2 separate regions of the Homo sapiens genome follow, and region 1 is linked to region 2. Evidence: fine-mapped expression QTL. A gene starts in region 2. The other region holds a variant in brackets. All regions are shown on one strand. Distances are from middle to middle.

Region 1 (8,332 bases), 120 kb after region 2:
TAATTGGCAGGTAACTTCAACATCAGAAATCTCCAAGCTGGGCTCTCTGAGGAGAGCGGGACTAGCTCTCTTATAGGCACCAACATTGCAGTTTGGATTATGGTTTTTTGACGAAGGGTATTCAGTGTGTCAGAGGGAAGGAAGTCCAGGGCCAGGGTCAGCCATCTTTCCTTCTGCCCGCAGTAATGTTGACCTCTCGAGGAATTGATGACAGTGGAAGAGTTCGGGAAAGGAAAGGGTGGTCAGTAGCTCCAGAGTATAAACATTGGGAACAGGTTTGAGAAGAATGCTCAGGAAAATAGAAACAACTAACCAGCAACTAAACAACTAAATTGCCTGACAGGGAATCATGGAAGCTAATCAATGCAAAATTGGTGGTCAGGTAGGGGCGGGCAATGTTGACATTGAAGTCTTGTGGACAGGCTTCCTGTGTTGATTTAGTAACCACACAATGGGTAAGGGAGAGGGGATCTCTGATCATAGCACCACTAATACTAGGATGCTTCTCTTTGACAGGCATAGGGTATTTTTTTTCTTTTAAGCATTAAGTAAGTGAGAAGATCACCTTCCTTTCTTTCTCTTTTGCCCTAAGGGCCTGCCCATTTCCAGCTGCGTAATTACCTCCTTCATAAGCCTTTACTCTGAGGCATGAAGGCTCTAGCCAGTACCCTGACTAACTCCCTGCTGGGGATGCCTCCGCTGAACAGAGCAGAGAGACCTGCTGATTTCAGAGCCAAGCGCAGAAAGCAGCTGGCTCTTAACTTGTTGTTTAAGAGAGCCAAGCAGAACAGAGCTGACGATTGCCTGGCCAGTGGGAGCCTGAGCCAGGCACCTGTCAAATCCTGCTTTGCTGGGTTCTCCTGCACCCTGCTCTGCAGTGCGCTTTTCCGAGACTGGCGGTCCACACCCCACAGGCTTTCTCCCTCTACAGCCAACCAGCTGCCAGCACCCCTGTAAATTCTTTCTCCAGCTAATATTTTGATCCCTAAGCAAGTTTCTCTCTCTTTTACTGGCAGGAAAAAAAAATGTCAAAAAGGGAAAATGATGATGTCTCTATTTTCTTCTGATAGCAGGCTACCAAACACTCCCAGCATATCCATTCTTTCGCTTTGGGAAAGAGGGAAGGCAAAGTGGTCTTGACGGTGTGTGTGCAAGGAGAGACATTCGAATGTGTATTTTTACCTGTCATTTGGGTCTTGAGAAGGTTGAAGTCTGCATATGGAAAAACTGGCCCTTTCTCTTCTCAGTTCTGAGTTTTAGAGTTAGTAAACTATGTAAATTATTTTATTTCTCTGTGCTCTGCATCCAGGCTGATGTCCTGGAGAGAGGGCTTTGAAAAACTGCCCCTGAAGCTATTGGCATTAACTGAAATTGATGTTTCACAGGACTGGGATAAAGAGGGTTATCAGTAGCTCAGGCCTGGCCTGCCTTGGGGACCACTGCCCACTGGATTACCTATTGGCTTAGGGCATAGGCACTGGCTTAGGAATTAAAAGTACTAAGTTCCAGACAAGCTCTGTTTGTGAAATCACTTAGGCCTCCAGCAAGCTTTAGCTTTTCCAAGGTTTTAGTGCTCTCATTTGTAGAATGAGACGGTCAGTTAGACATCACCTCCAAAACGTTACGAGTTTCATGAATCTGGCTGCACTTACTTTGTGGAGCCATCAGCCCTAACCTGAAGCCTGGGAAACAAGTAAACGTGTTTCAAGTTTCTTAAAAGTTGCTTTCTCAAGTTACTTCCTTTCTTCACACAAGAAATGAAAGGGAAACACTGCTGCAAAGAGCCCTGGAAACAGGTCCTGATTTTAGAAGAGAGCCTTGAGATGACAGGGGCATGGATGTCCTGCACATTCCTTCAGCATAACCGCAGAAAGCCTGCATATATTTTTCGTTGTTTGTAATTGCAAACTTTTCTAAAAATCTACCCTTTAGAAATGATTGCCTTTCTCTGAGGATCAGATCACAGTCCAGCCAATTCTCAGAGAAAATTAAACAAAGAATACTGAGCCTGGAATCTGTGATTAGGATGCCTGGCGAAGTAAAAATGACCGTGTACTTTCCCAAGTGGGTCAGCTATGGCCCCAGATATCCAAACAGGATGGCACATGAATCATGCCGGTTTGATGGGCTCTCTCAGGCTGGATTTACAGCTGGATTTAGGACTAAATGTTGGAGGTAAATCTAAAGGAGCAGAAGGGCTGGGGAGGGAATGGGAAATCAAGGGAGTTTCCATCAAAGCTTTTCAGAAGCAGAAATCCATTCTACCTTTGTCGATGACTGTGGTTTGCTAGGATCAAGATCAAAGGAATCACCGTGGGCAGAGCCATGACAAGTATGAGGCTCAGTCTGGTGCAACCTAGCATTAGCCCCTCTCTTAGGCTGCCGTCTAGACTGGAAGTGGGTGCTCATACCAGACCAGGCTGAGTGTGTAGTCAGGGTACTGTTTCATGACGGGGCAAAGGACTTATAAAGCCTATCTTGATCTCCCCAGGGAAGCCCACAGCCAGGGGCAGTGAGGCACAAAGTAGCTATATCCCTGATTATGTCCTTGGGAAAACAGGGGACATGGAATGACCATGAAGCCAGGTGGTTGACAGGGACAAGGAACTGATTTTGGCAAAATCCAACTGGCTTGTTTTGTGTATCTTTCCCTCTCCTCCCTGATTGCTTTAGAAGGCTGCTCTAAAAGTTTACTAAAAAGTTGTTCGTTTGCAGGCCTAAGACACTTGATATTTGAACTAGAAGGTCTTCTTATCCACACTTTACAGACCGAAAAACTGAGGCACAGAGGGGTTAAATTAGGTCACCCAGCCATGGGTGGAGGATCCGGGAATGAATTAGGACAGATTCATTCCACAGCCCATCTCATAACGACTGACTACTCTAAAGGATATTGGTAAATTTGAATCTTATTTACTGGAAAAGCCCCTCTTGTAGAGCTGGTGCATCACAGATACCAAATAGACCTGGTTCTTATTTGTATTCCTTCATTTATAAGACTCACAGTATATCTATTAAGTTACAAAGCTAAAGATTAAAGAATTTGGTGCTGAGAACATGAATGTAAACTCATCATTTGTTGCTAAATGTATTGGGGTCAGTCAACTTGGGTTAG[T/C]GACCACAAAGAGGAACTTTTAGGAGGCCCATGGCTAGCTTTAGAAATGCATGGTTTTTGCCTAAAGCAAAGTCATCTTGAACATGTTTTGATATTATCTAATATTCCTTATTGTTTTCATAAACACTTACGGCTCAAAGGAAACCCAAGCTCACCATGCCCAGAAAATCTTCAATCTTCCTCTCCCCGTTGAGGCTCTCCTCCCAGGACTGGAGATAGTAGGACAGGAAGCTAGCACTCTACTTGAAAAATGGAATCTACCTAGTGCTGACTCATTTCCTTGCAAAATGTTGTGTGTGAGCTATTTGATGCCCCCAGAATCTTGGGAGTCCTTTTGGATGAATTTTATAAGCCGTTCCTTGATACAGATACTGCATGCTTAGACGCTACAGGTTGCCAAGATAACTCAACCCCAAAAGACTTAAGGTAAATGAAATCTCCAAGTCCCAAGGATTAGGTATGAGTTTTGGCTGCTTGGGTTTTCTCACACAAATGCCTCATATGGCAGCAGAGCAGGCAGCACCCTCCGCAGAATTGGATTATCTTGATGTTTAAGTTTTGCAAATGGATCATTCTCAACTGACCATGTGAATTGAAGAAGGTTGCTGAACTTTTGCTGGCCTCTAAGCCGTGGGCAAATAGAGTGAATCCTATTGATTAAACCCAAAGCTTCCTCCTGTGGAAAATCCTATTTAAGTAGAAGGATTATTACTATTGCCCATTAAAAAATAATCACTATATTGGGCTGGGTGCGATGGCTCATGCCTGTAATCCCAGCACTTTGGGAGGCTGAGGTGGCGGATCACCTGAGGTTGGGAGTTCCAGACCAGCCTGACCAACATGGAGAAACCCCATCTCCACTAAAAATATAAAATTAGTGGGCATGGTGGTGCATGCTTGTAATCTCAGCTACTCGGGAGGCTGAGGCAGGAGAGTTGCTTGAACCCAGGAGGCGGAGGTTGCGGTGAGCCAAGATGGTGCCATTGCACTCCAGCCTGGGCAACAAGAGTGAAACTCCAACTCAAAAAAAAAAAAAATAATAATAATAATAATCGCTATATTGTACCTTTCTTATTTGAAAGGGAGCCAGAATCTAAACAGTAAAGTGTGGTGAGGGGGTTGTTGTTCACTAGGGTGTCTCCCATAGTACAAGTTTATGATTGCATAGTTCCTGTTTCTAGTGCTTCCCTCTACTCTCCTTGACAGGTTTTAAACTAGATAGCAAGATTTTAGGTGCTCCACTGCATAATAAAAGTGTATTGGAGTACTGTGTGGATTCGAGCACTGGCTTCTTGGCAGGAAGAAGAAAACCCTCATGAAGGGTCAGAAGTGGAAGCCATACCTGGTACAGGTCTTGTTAACTGAACATTACTCTATTAGGTTCTCTTAATTATTTGAAAAGTCCTCTTCCTCCTTGCTCCAGGTTCCCTCCCTTTAGGTTGAACCTTCCATGAATTTTACAATCCATATCATTTTCTATCTAAATGATTAAAGCAAGAGCTGGCACCCTCTCAGGACCAGCCTGCTAAGTATTCATTTATTCACCGTAATTTAAGGCTTTCTCTGCCAGGAGTAATAACCCTCCTCCTCCTTCAGGCCATTCTGGATGCAGAATCTGAATGTCAGCCTGGGGCGAAGAAAGGAAGGGCAGAAAGGACAGAGAAGAATATAATTGTCCATAGGTTTCCATAGCTTTGTTAATATTTTTCTTTGGTGGATTTTGACACTGGGGAAAGGTGCATTAACCTTCAGATTACTCTTTAAGGAAGGTAATCCTGGAAAGATAAAGAGGAGTTTTGTGATTTTGGAGCATTTCTGCCTTACAAAATGGAGAGAGAGTTTCATAAAATAATAACAAAAATCAGAAGCAACTTGAGGAAAAAACCTAGAAAGAAACAAAACACCAGGAACAAAGACAAAGGAGCTGTTCTTCTCTTCTTTTAGGTTCCTTCTTTCTGGTATTTATTTATTTATTTATTTATTTATTTATTTATTTATTTGGAGATGCAGTCTCACTCTGTCACCCAGGTTGGAGTACAGTTGCATGATCTCAGCTCACTGCAACCTCCGCCTCCTGGGTTCTAGCAATTCTCCTGCCTCAGCCTCCCCAGTAGCTGAGATTACAGGTGCATGCTGCCACACCTGGCTATTTTTTTGTATTTTAATAGGGATAGGGCTTTGCCATGTTGCCCAGGCTGGTCTTGAACTCCTGAGCTCAGGCAATCTGCCCACTTCGGCCTCCCAAAGTGTTGGGATTACAGGCATGAGCTACCACGCCCAGCCTCTTTCTGTTCTCTTTATCACCAACATTCATTGAATAAATGAATATGTGGATAAAAAACCAGTGATTGAGTACATTTTTGAATGAATAAATGAATGAATCATAGGTCAGTGTTCCTCAAATTCATTCATTTTCAGAATCAAATGGAAGCCCTTTTTATAATACAGATCCCTCATCTACCCCTTCCCTTTCCATCCCAGAGTTTCCAATTCATTAGGTCACTAATGGAGCCCAGGGATCTGTATTTTCAACTGCTTCCCAGGCAATTCCAATGATCACCCAGGTTTCAAAACCCTAGGCCTACAGCACAAATGATAAATGATAACATTTAGGTTCTGTCTCTCATTTCTCCTGCTATTGGCCCCACACTGAATTTAGTTGCAGATTGATATTAATCAGTTGTTTTTTCCTCCTCCATCTGACTAGCTGATTGCCCTGCCTGTCATCCTTATGAATTGCAAATGAAATATGGTGACATTTTTCCAGAAGTTATGTCTTAGAGACTTTCCAATTTTAAAATAATCACCAGGGCTGGGTGCAGTGGCTCATGCCTGTAATCCCAGCACTTTGGGAGGCTGAGGTGGCTGGATCATGAAGTCAGGAGATCAAGACCATCCTGGCCAACATGGTGAAACTCCATCTCTACTAGAAGTACAAAAATTAGCCTGGCATGGCAGTGCATGCCTGTAGTCCCAGCTACTCAGGAGGCTGAGGCGGGAAAATTGCTTGAACCTGGGAGGCGGAGGTTGTGGTGCCACTTCACTCCAGCCTGGGCAATGGAGCAAGACTCCATCTCAAAAAAAAATTAAATAAATAAATATAAAATGATCATCAGATTTTCCATCCTGTTCTATCTCAACTCTTGTGGAATTATCCATTCATGCAAAAACCAACAGGTCCCTTGCTTTGTTTGCTTGTTTTTGGTTAGAAAAGAGTTTGCTTCCGAAATCCATTGGTTTTAAAAATGCCTCATCATCATCTCCCTGCTTACTCATGTATATTTATCCTACAAATATGTATCAAGTATCTCTAGTGTCCTGGGAACACTGTGGATACAAAGATGAAAGATATCACCCTTTTCCTTAGGGAACCTGCAGACCAATGGTAAGCTAGATACAAAAATGATTATTTCACACTCCAGATATGGTGGAGGGATGCATAGGTTAGGAAAGTTGGGGTATATATTGGGTTAGGAGGAGGATAAGTCTTGAAGAAGAAAGTGAAAGCTGAGATTTAGATGATGAAGGGAACTGAGGTATTATGCCTGCAGCCAAAACCTAAAACTTTGGAGAACTAAAGGCAAAGCTGTGTGTGTGTTGGAAGGGATGGCGGTGGGAAATGAGATTGGATATGTAGACAGGGACCACATTAAGAATAACTTCCTAAAATATTGAGTTTTAGTCTGAAGGCATGGGAATCACATATGGGACTTGAGCATGGGGTGGACACAAACAAAATAAAAAACCCATATATTTAAGGAAAGGCGCTCTTATCATGATGGGGTTTGCCTGACTTTAAATTTGCCATATTTGAGACAGTGATAAGGATCTAAATGAAGTTTCAGTCAGAGGATTTAAAGAGCAAAAGCAGAAGAAAGAACAGAAGCAGGAGAATTAATTGCTTGACCACCTAGAGAATGATGATGTGATTATGGAAGCAATTGTTTGACTGATTTTTATTCATTTTTTCCTGTGAAATTCAAAGAAAATGCTGACAGCATCATAATATGACAGTCCAAATCCAAGCACTTCAGCAAGTGGGGATTTATTTATTTTTTTCTTCTTATCAAGGTTGAAAGATCTTCTAAGCACACATGAAAGAAACAGCAGGGCCAAGACTACTTTGAACTTACTGCATACGATTCCTTTCATATAAGATGTGCTTGACAAACATTAATTAAGTCTCCCAGCACCTCTTTGAAGTAATGTAGGAAATATGTAGAGGTGGGTAAACTGAGGCCCCAGGAACTAGAAGGAGAGCCTGAGGACATACCAGGGCAGGTGCAGCATTTGAAAAGACCCTCACAGGAGGCCCCTCTTTCTCTGATGAGGCCAGATGTAGGTGCTTGTTTCCAAGCAGAGGTCTTCCAACAAGTTCTCTCAACCAGGCAGGGGTGAGGCAGACTAGTTATTTGCTCCAATGGCCATACTCTCTGACCTAAAACTTTGGAGAACTAAAGGCTCCTCAGACCTGGCAGCCTTGAGCCTCATAGCACACCCTATCTACCTATAATCCAGATCCACCATCTCCTTCCTGAAATTGACAGCTGTGTTGCATCTCTCCTAATGCTTGTTTTGTCCTTATAACTGGCTGAGACCACTTGATTCAATGGCTAAAAGAAGTACCCTGAGTCACTTTGGTGCCTGAGTTTCTGCTTTTTTTTTTTTTTTTTTTTGCTTTTTCATTTTTGGAGATTAGCCTCACTGGTTTAGCATGAAAGATGTTTATTACGGGCAAATGGAGAAGTTGAGTTGTGATACAGGCCCCTTGGCAGCTTTGGCCAAACTCACAGGGGGCTCTAAAGCTGAAATAGCCCTTCAAAATTGTCCCGAGTTGGTTACTTCCATGTTGATTAATCACTGGATGTGGCTCTTCTGGGAAGGGCAGAGGCTGAATCAATTCCTGAAAAAGGTGAATGGCTAAAGACTGTGCCCAGGCCACATTAGGAAACACATCTTCTGCTTGCTAAACTAGGTGCATCCAAAAAGACGGACCTTGATCAGTTTTATTGGCTACCCAAATATCAATTCATTCTACACATTCAACTGGTCTTCTAACCTATATATATATATATATATGTGATGCTGGAAATGATATTAAACACTAAAGCAATAAAATACGAAGTCTCTGCAGTCAGGAAACTTAGTCTGGTGAGAGAGATACTAAATAAATAGATAAACCTAGAAACATAATTAGTTCAGAAACGGCTAAATGCT
Region 2 (8,332 bases):
TTTGCAACCTTTTGTTGTCTTCACACATATCTTCTCATTTATTCTTCACAACCTCCATGAGAAGTCAACTGTTAGTCTCTATAGAGTATTCATGAGGGAGCCGAGGCTATGAGAATTTGTTACTGCCATAGATCAGAGGTCCCCAACCCCCGGGCCATGAATAGTACTTGTCCATGGCCTGTTAGGAACCCCCAGGGGCAGGTGAGGGAGCATTACTGCCTGAGCTCTGCCTCCTGTCAGATCAGCAGCAGCATTAGATTCTCATAGGAGCTCAAACCCTACTGTGAACTGCATGTATGAGGGATCTAGGTTGCATGCTCCTTATGAGAACCTAACTAATGCCTGACGATCTGACGTGGAACCGTTTCATCCTGAAACCATCACCCCCAACCTGGTCTGTAGAAAAATTTTCCTCCACAAAACTGGTCCCTGGTGCCAAAATGGTTGGGGACCTCTGCTTTAGATTGACTGACCCAACTGGTGGCCTTTCTGATGAAATATCCACTGTTTGGCAATATAATAAAAGCTGGGAGAAGAGAAGGAGAAGGAGGAGAAAGAGGAGGAGAAGAAAGGCATCCAAAGTCCTATTTCTTAAAACCAGGCCATATTGCAGACAGAAGGCCAAAGAATACATTTGAAGATACATAGAGTGAGTAGCAATCAGAAACTAAGTTCACACATGTTATCCATTTGACCTTCATCATGTCAGTCTGAAGCAAGCAAACATATATTTATTTACCCCAATTAACAGATGAAATGACCATTTTAAAGTCAGTCATCCATGACAGAACCAGGAATTAGAACCCAGGTCACCCAACTACATCTTAGAGTGTTATCAACATAGTTTACAGACATAACTTAAGGTGTACATCTTAAACTGTGTGACAGTCTAATCAATGCACAAAATTCATTCTTTTTAATTTTTAAGAAGATGTAGTTGGTACTTGCTGAAAGCAGTGATCCTGATTTGGCCAACTTGGCCTAGTTTCTGATATAAATCACTCCACCTCTCCCATCCTTTCTACCATGTCTAATCAAACACCAAAAAGGAAAACATTTGATTGACTAAATGCTTCTCTTTTGCCTTGGCTCCAAGTTCCTGTAAAAAAAACTTCATCCAGGTAAAGTAAGTAGGGATGGTTATGGGTGTCACCCTTGTAACAAAGCGATATGTATGCTAAAAAGCAAAGAGGGTTTCTCAGGGCAGTTGCCACAGGTTTCCATGGAATGACAATTACAAGGTAGATGGATCACGTAATGCCTGCTGTGAACTTTACAATACATGGGGATCACTATTTTAATGTTGATTTGCATAATGTTTGGCCTAGCAAGAACAATACTGAATGCTAATAGCTACAGAATGCAATAAAATGGAATATCATGTGAGCTGAAGTGCTAAAATTGCTAAAGTATGACTGTAAGCAGTTAATTTCATCCCGAGTCTTGTCCACACACAATCAAATGCAAATTTCCACTATCTCCTGAGAAACTGCCAAGAGATGACTGAAATGGAATAGCAACAACCTCCTTTATGTGGAATCATTATCTGGTCATCTTTGCTTTTTTACATAACTTGTCTGTACCCTCTGATGCATTTGAATTTGCAACTTCTACTATCCCTATCTTAAACAACTCCCCACTCCCACCTCTGCCCCTTCCACATTTGCTGGCAGATGCACTAAGTCTGATAAACTCAGCAAGACTGAATCTCACCCTCTGAACTGAAAAACTTTGAATGGACCTTTGAAAACGGTAGAATTGACAATGGTTAGCTGCAAGTGATATTTTCAAGGCAAACAGACACTCTCCCAAAGTATTAAATAACCCAGCATTCTAAGTTGCAGGTGGAAGGTAGCCATTAGTGAAGAGAGAGAAAAAAAAAAGAAATAGCTCGTCTGTATTTAGATTTATCATTTCTGACTATTGCTCTTCCCTGGAAAACGGGTAGGTACAGTCATCCTGTACTTCGATCCCAAATCAGTCTCTGGAGACTACTTATTTATTTATTTATTTATTTATGGACTTCTTTCTTTCAAGCGTTCGAACTCATTTCCACCACAAGAGGGCAGCCATCTCTAAAAAAAAAAAAATAGGGCCAAAATTTATGTAAGTTGTGCTTGGAACAAGCATTCAGTAGTTCCTCAGAAATCATACACCCTACATAAAAGAGATTCTGCAATGGGCAGCACTAACATGAAACAGTGTTCAGAAGTACCCATTTTCCCTCAGATTCTAAACTGACAAGGTTTCCACTTACCAGGTTATGAAGTTCTAAAGCTGCAAGACATCCTTGAGGTCATCACAGGATATTTATTTATTTTTTCTTCGGGTGCATCCAATAGTTATCAACTTTTCCTCCTCTTTAAAAGCTACTTAAATCTCATTGAAGTTTTGTTTTGTTTTGTTTTTGAAATCTAAGTAATGAGAGAAACAATTGTTAACTTCTCAATTAAACTTGATAGGAAAGGAAATAATTTCAGAAGCCCTGTGTCCATGAGTAGGATATGTTTTATTGCCTCCTTGTTTGCGGTGCAATGACTCTGAGTGACAATCAACTTCTATAGCACCTTTTTTTTTTTTTTCAGGAAATAAAGTAGCATGTTCCTGAATAATTCCCCCACCCCCTTTTATTTTCCTGGTAGTCAGGCTTCCTCCAAAATACCTTATTTGACCTTTATACCTTTAGAAACAGCAAGTGCCTAATTCGCCTCTGTGGGTTGCTAATCCGATTTACGTGAGCGGAACCTAGTATTATTTTAGCTCCCCTACCGAAAAAATAATACACATGGATAATAGTTCTATTACCAGCTCCTGCTTCTGACTTTTTTCTCTCTGTTTCGCAGGCCCGATAGCTCTGGGAAAGCAGAACTTGGCCTTTTCCAAAAATTTTCTGCCCTTGGTTTTGGGGATCATTTGGGCAAGCCCGAGGTGCTGTGCATGGGGGCTCCTGGAATCCTGGGAAGGGCAGAAAGCCTTGGCCCCAGACTCATCGTGCAGCAGCTCTGAGCAGTATTTCGGCTGAGGAGTGACTTCAGTGAATATTCAGCTGAGGAGTGACTTGGCCACGTGTCACAGCCCTACTTCTTGGGGGCCTGGTGGAAGAGGGTGGCGTAGAAGGTTCCAAGGTCCCAAACTGGAATTGTCCTGTATGCTTGGTTCACACAGTGCGTTATTTTACCTTCCTCTGAGCTGCTAATCGCCTGCCTCTGAGCTGGGTGAGATAAATATCACAAGGCACAAAGTGATTGTACAATAAAAAAATCAAATCCCTCCCATCCATCCTTCAGTCTGCCACACACGCAGTCTACGTTACACACATGTCACGTAAAGCAGGATGACATCCATGTCACATACATAGACATATTAACCGAAATGTGGCCCTTCGGTTGCATATATTCTCATACATGAATATATTTATAGAAATATATGCACATATTTTTGTATATTGGATATATTTATGTAACTATAAATTTACATGCGTATGGATATGAAAATAAATGCATACACATTTATGTAAAAAAATTTGTACACATGCATTTACATATGTAAATACATACATCTCTATGTATTAATGTTTAAAAACACTCAATTTCCAGCCTGCTGTTTTCTTTTAATTTTCCTCCTATTCCGGGGAAACAGAAGCGTGGATCCCACGTCTATGCTATGCCAAAATACGCTGTAATTGAGGTGTTTTGTTTTGTTTTGTTTTTTGAAATCGTATATTACCGAAAAACTTCAAACTGAAAGTTGAATAACGGGCCCAGCGGGGAAATAAGAGGCCAGACCCTGACCCTGCATTTGTCCTGGATTTCGCCTCCAGAGTCCCCGCGAGGGTCCGGCGCGCCAGCTGATCTCTCCTTTGAGAGCAGGGAGTGGAGGCGCGAGCGCCCCCCTTGGCGGCCGCGCGCCCCCGCCCTCCGCCCCACCCCGCCGCGGCTGCCCGGGCGCGCCGTCCACACCCCTGCGCGCAGCTCCCGCCCGCTCGGGGATCCCCGGCGAGCCGCGCCGCGAAGGGGGAGGTGTTCGGCCGCGGCCGGGAGGGAGCCGGCAGGCGGCGTCCCCTTTAAAAGCCGCGAGCGCCGCGCCACGGCGCCGCCGCCGCCGTCGCCGCCGCCGGAGTCCTCGCCCCGCCGCGCTGCGCCCGGCTCGCGCTGCGCTAGTCGCTCCGCTTCCCACACCCCGCCGGGGACTGGCAGCCGCCGCCGCACATCTGCCGCCACAGCCTCCGCCGGCTACCCGAACGTTCTCGGGGCCAGCGCCGAGTGGATCACCGGGGACCGCGAGGCACCCGCGCGCCGCAGACCCCGCGCGGGCTGGAGCACCCGGCAGAGCGCGCCACAGCGCCGTGGCCTCTGCTGCCCGGGCTGCGCCAGAGCCGCGGACGGGCGCGCAGAGCGCCGGGGACTCCGGAGCCGATCCCTAGCGCCGCGATGCGGAGCACCTACTGCAGGAGATCGGGGGCCTGGGACGCGCTGGCCGAGGTGTGATCGGACCCCAGGCTAGCCACAAAGGGCACTTGGCCCCAGGGCTAGGAGAGCGAGGGGAGAGCACAGCCACCCGCCTCGGCGGCCCGGGACTCGGCTCGACTCGCCGGAGAATGCGCCCGAGGACGACGGGGCGCCAGAGCCGCGGTGCTTTCAACTGGCGAGCGCGAATGGGGGTGCACTGGAGTAAGGCAGAGTGATGCGGGGGGGCAACTCGCCTGGCACCGAGATCGCCGCCGTGCCCTTCCCTGGACCCGGCGTCGCCCAGGATGGCTGCCCCGAGCCATGGGCCGCGGCGGAGCTAGCGCGGAGCGCCCGACCCTCGACCCCCGAGTCCCGGAGCCGGCCCCGCGCGGGGCCACGCGTCCCTCGGGCGCTGGTTCCTAAGGAGGACGACAGCACCAGCTTCTCCTTTCTCCCTTCCCTTCCCTGCCCCGCACTCCTCCCCCTGCTCGCTGTTGTTGTGTGTCAGCACTTGGCTGGGGACTTCTTGAACTTGCAGGGAGAATAACTTGCGCACCCCACTTTGCGCCGGTGCCTTTGCCCCAGCGGAGCCTGCTTCGCCATCTCCGAGCCCCACCGCCCCTCCACTCCTCGGCCTTGCCCGACACTGAGACGCTGTTCCCAGCGTGAAAAGAGAGACTGCGCGGCCGGCACCCGGGAGAAGGAGGAGGCAAAGAAAAGGAACGGACATTCGGTCCTTGCGCCAGGTCCTTTGACCAGAGTTTTTCCATGTGGACGCTCTTTCAATGGACGTGTCCCCGCGTGCTTCTTAGACGGACTGCGGTCTCCTAAAGGTAGAGGACGCGGGCCAGGGCCCGGGGTGGGTGGTGGGTGGGAGGGGGATTTGGGCAGCCACTGCGGTAGAGCCCTTCCTTACGTCCAGGCCAGAAGTAAACAGACCCCTCTCCAGTCCACGTGCAACGGAGCCCTGCAGGGGCTCCCACTTCCAGCTGCCCCGGGCGACCGTAAGCCTCACCCTCCCGGCCCGCACTCTTCCACCCCTCTTTCTTCCCCTCTCCCTGGAATACTTTTGGAGCTGTTAACACTTAGATGAGGTGTTTTATTTATTTATTTATTTATTTTTAATTTTTTTAAAAACTTTTTTGGGTCAAAGAAATCCCTTTGAGAGGGTAGCCCCTGGGTTTCACCCGTTAGCTGAGAACCTGTCCGCTCTGCCATGGTGATCTCCATTCTTCAAGTGTTTCCGGGAGACTTGGTTTCTTTGCTCAGAGCCGTGTCCCATTTAGGAAAGTACTAGGAGTTTGGGGTTCTCCCTACTTGTTTCCAGAAATGCGAGGGGTCAGTACTGAAGGATCACTTGGTACTGTGTTTTTAACAGCTGACACGTGCATTAATAGATATTCACCATTTACGTAATCCCGGGAAGATACATGTGTATCTTGACTGCACTGTGGGGATGCGGGATGGAGCTGCCTTTCGAGACACCCCTGAGGGTAGGGGCCTGGGACACAAGTCATAAGTGGCTTCAGAAGTTGTGGCCTTGAGCTTACAGGGTCTGGAAGCTATAAGGGTGTGTGTGTGTGTGTGTGTGTGTGTGTGTGTGTGTCAGGAAGTTCTATACAGTGCCTCTAAGGAAGTCACATGCACCATTTATGTGTGTTTATATGCCAGACAGCGCTCAGCACTCCGCATTTGGGTTTGTATAGGGGACGCAGGGTGTCAGATCAAGCGGTGGTTTTCCCAGGTTCCCGGCATTGGCTGTCAGCGCTGTGTCACACACAAAAAAGTGACAGTCATTGGCGCTGGTTTGGTTGGGGGGGAGGGCAAATCCCAAATCTGATGTCAGACGAGCTAAGCGTTGGATGGGAGCGATAAATCATCTGGTTCAGGAACTTGGGACCCTTCATTATCCCAAACGTTTGAGCTTCGGTCGGTCTTACCTAGACTCGTGAGTGTGCCAAGCCAGGAGGGCATCCTGGAGGAGGCACGCCAGCCAAATGGGAGACCGGGCCGCGGGGGCGCGAGGGGGGAGGACTGGGCGGGGAACTCGGGTGACTCACGTCGGTCCTGTCCGCAGGTCGACCATGGTGGCCGGGACCCGCTGTCTTCTAGCGTTGCTGCTTCCCCAGGTCCTCCTGGGCGGCGCGGCTGGCCTCGTTCCGGAGCTGGGCCGCAGGAAGTTCGCGGCGGCGTCGTCGGGCCGCCCCTCATCCCAGCCCTCTGACGAGGTCCTGAGCGAGTTCGAGTTGCGGCTGCTCAGCATGTTCGGCCTGAAACAGAGACCCACCCCCAGCAGGGACGCCGTGGTGCCCCCCTACATGCTAGACCTGTATCGCAGGCACTCAGGTCAGCCGGGCTCACCCGCCCCAGACCACCGGTTGGAGAGGGCAGCCAGCCGAGCCAACACTGTGCGCAGCTTCCACCATGAAGGTGAGGCATGGAGCAGGGCGTGGGGGCGGGGAGTCACCCTGCAAAGCCCTCCACCGTGGGCAGACTGCAGCCGTCCCTGTAGAGGCAGCTTGGCCGGGGCACCAGCGGACGTTTCCACTCTTGCTTCTGTACTATCGTTTCTGAATCTGATTTTAACTCACTGCTTGTGTGGTGGGGGAGCCAGGGATTCCCCTTTAGTAACTCCGCACCCTCTTCCTGGCTTGCAGCCAGAAGAGCTACTCCTCCTGGAAGAATTGGAGAGAAATCAAGTGATGGGGAAGATGAGGGCAAAAGGCATGCCTCTAGTCAGCTAAACGTGCAAGAATTCCACAGAGGGAAAAGGAGAAAAAGGGAGGCAGATTGAGATTTCTTTAAGTCTGTTTGGAAGCTTTTGCTCTATAAATCTGCCGCTTAAGCCAGGGTTTTAGGGTAGACAGAGCCAAGGGCAGAGTTTTCAGAGATAGTATTGAAAAATCAAAGCCCAGGGCCCCAAAGTCTTTCTAATTTATAGTTGATCTGGGCCTGGTTTGGAAGATTTTGAATCCCAATCTAATCCCCGTGGGAGATCAATACTACAATCAATCTTATTGTTTCCACAATGACTTTCTTGTCCTGTGCTTAAATCTGAGATAGGCTCTGAGTAGAGACAAGGCAAGCCTTCAGATAAAAGCGTTTGTAGCAGCTGCCTGTTTTTTTTTCATGTGCACCGAAATGTGGATTTTTTTTTCTTTTATGATACTACATGTGGTTTTTCTAAGGTGGGATATTTCTGCTTGTTTCATCAGAAGGGCATTTAGTGGACTGGAAATGTCTTACAGCAGCTATTGAGGTCTGCTGTACCTAAGTTCTTAGAGCAATTAGTCAAAAATATGTTCCACTTCAATTCTTTTTCTACACTTTTAAATGCTTCTTTGGCTTAATACATTTAAAATAGAGCATGGGTTTCTTCAATTCCTAGAAAAGAGTACAAAAGTGTATATCACAGAGCAACCACTTGGCAGATATTTGGGGAGTTGGGAGTGAAGTTCTCTTTCTTGCCTTTCCCTGCTTAGGTGGTAAATTTCAAGTGGGAAATTTACACTGATAATAGACTAATGGGAAATGGCACTTCCAGATGTTTTCTCCCAGTGTGAAGGGTGACTTATACTTGTGAGAGTATTTGTTGGTAATGGGAATAAGTCCCAAAGGCAAGCCACATAGCAGAAGATACGTTCTCATTGAGGCAGCTACACATTACGACGGGGACACTGAATTGATCATCAGTTCATTTACAAGCACATTTCTAAGTGAGGTGCTCTCTGCTAGCAGAAATCAGATTTGAAAGGCAGTAAGATCTCACTCCACTCTTTCAGAATTCATCCAATGAAAGCAGAAATCACCTGTTGTCATATGTAAAATTTGTGTGTATGTGTACATTCTGCCATCTTAACCCTGAAATGATTATAGATCCAGCT

Evidence for each region. PIP is the estimated chance that this variant, and not a neighbour inherited with it, causes the effect.
Region 1: its variant is fine-mapped to the expression of BMP2 in whole blood (TOPMed, PIP 0.97).

What each region holds. Positions count from the first base shown.
Region 1 is chr20:6,885,816-6,894,147 of GRCh38, forward strand. No RefSeq gene overlaps it. Among named protein-coding and RNA genes, the nearest start is that of BMP2, 120 kb to the left of the region's middle. The variant T/C (reference allele first, on the strand shown) is at 3,116.
Region 2 is chr20:6,763,595-6,771,926 of GRCh38, forward strand. BMP2 (bone morphogenetic protein 2) reads left to right here and starts at 4,092. Exons shown (of 3, transcript NM_001200.4): 1 at 4,092-5,281; 2 at 6,526-6,878. The coding sequence starts at 6,533. LOC105372517 (a long non-coding RNA gene) reads right to left here and starts at 3,890. Exons shown (of 4, transcript XR_937229.2): 1 at 3,727-3,890; 2 at 2,806-3,211; 3 at 2,258-2,414; 4 at 1,999-2,075. RefSeq lists promoters at 268-5,146, 3,956-4,597, 3,987-5,146, cis regulatory regions at 3,060-3,850, 3,857-3,956, 4,597-4,771 and silencers at 4,036-4,085, 4,176-4,225.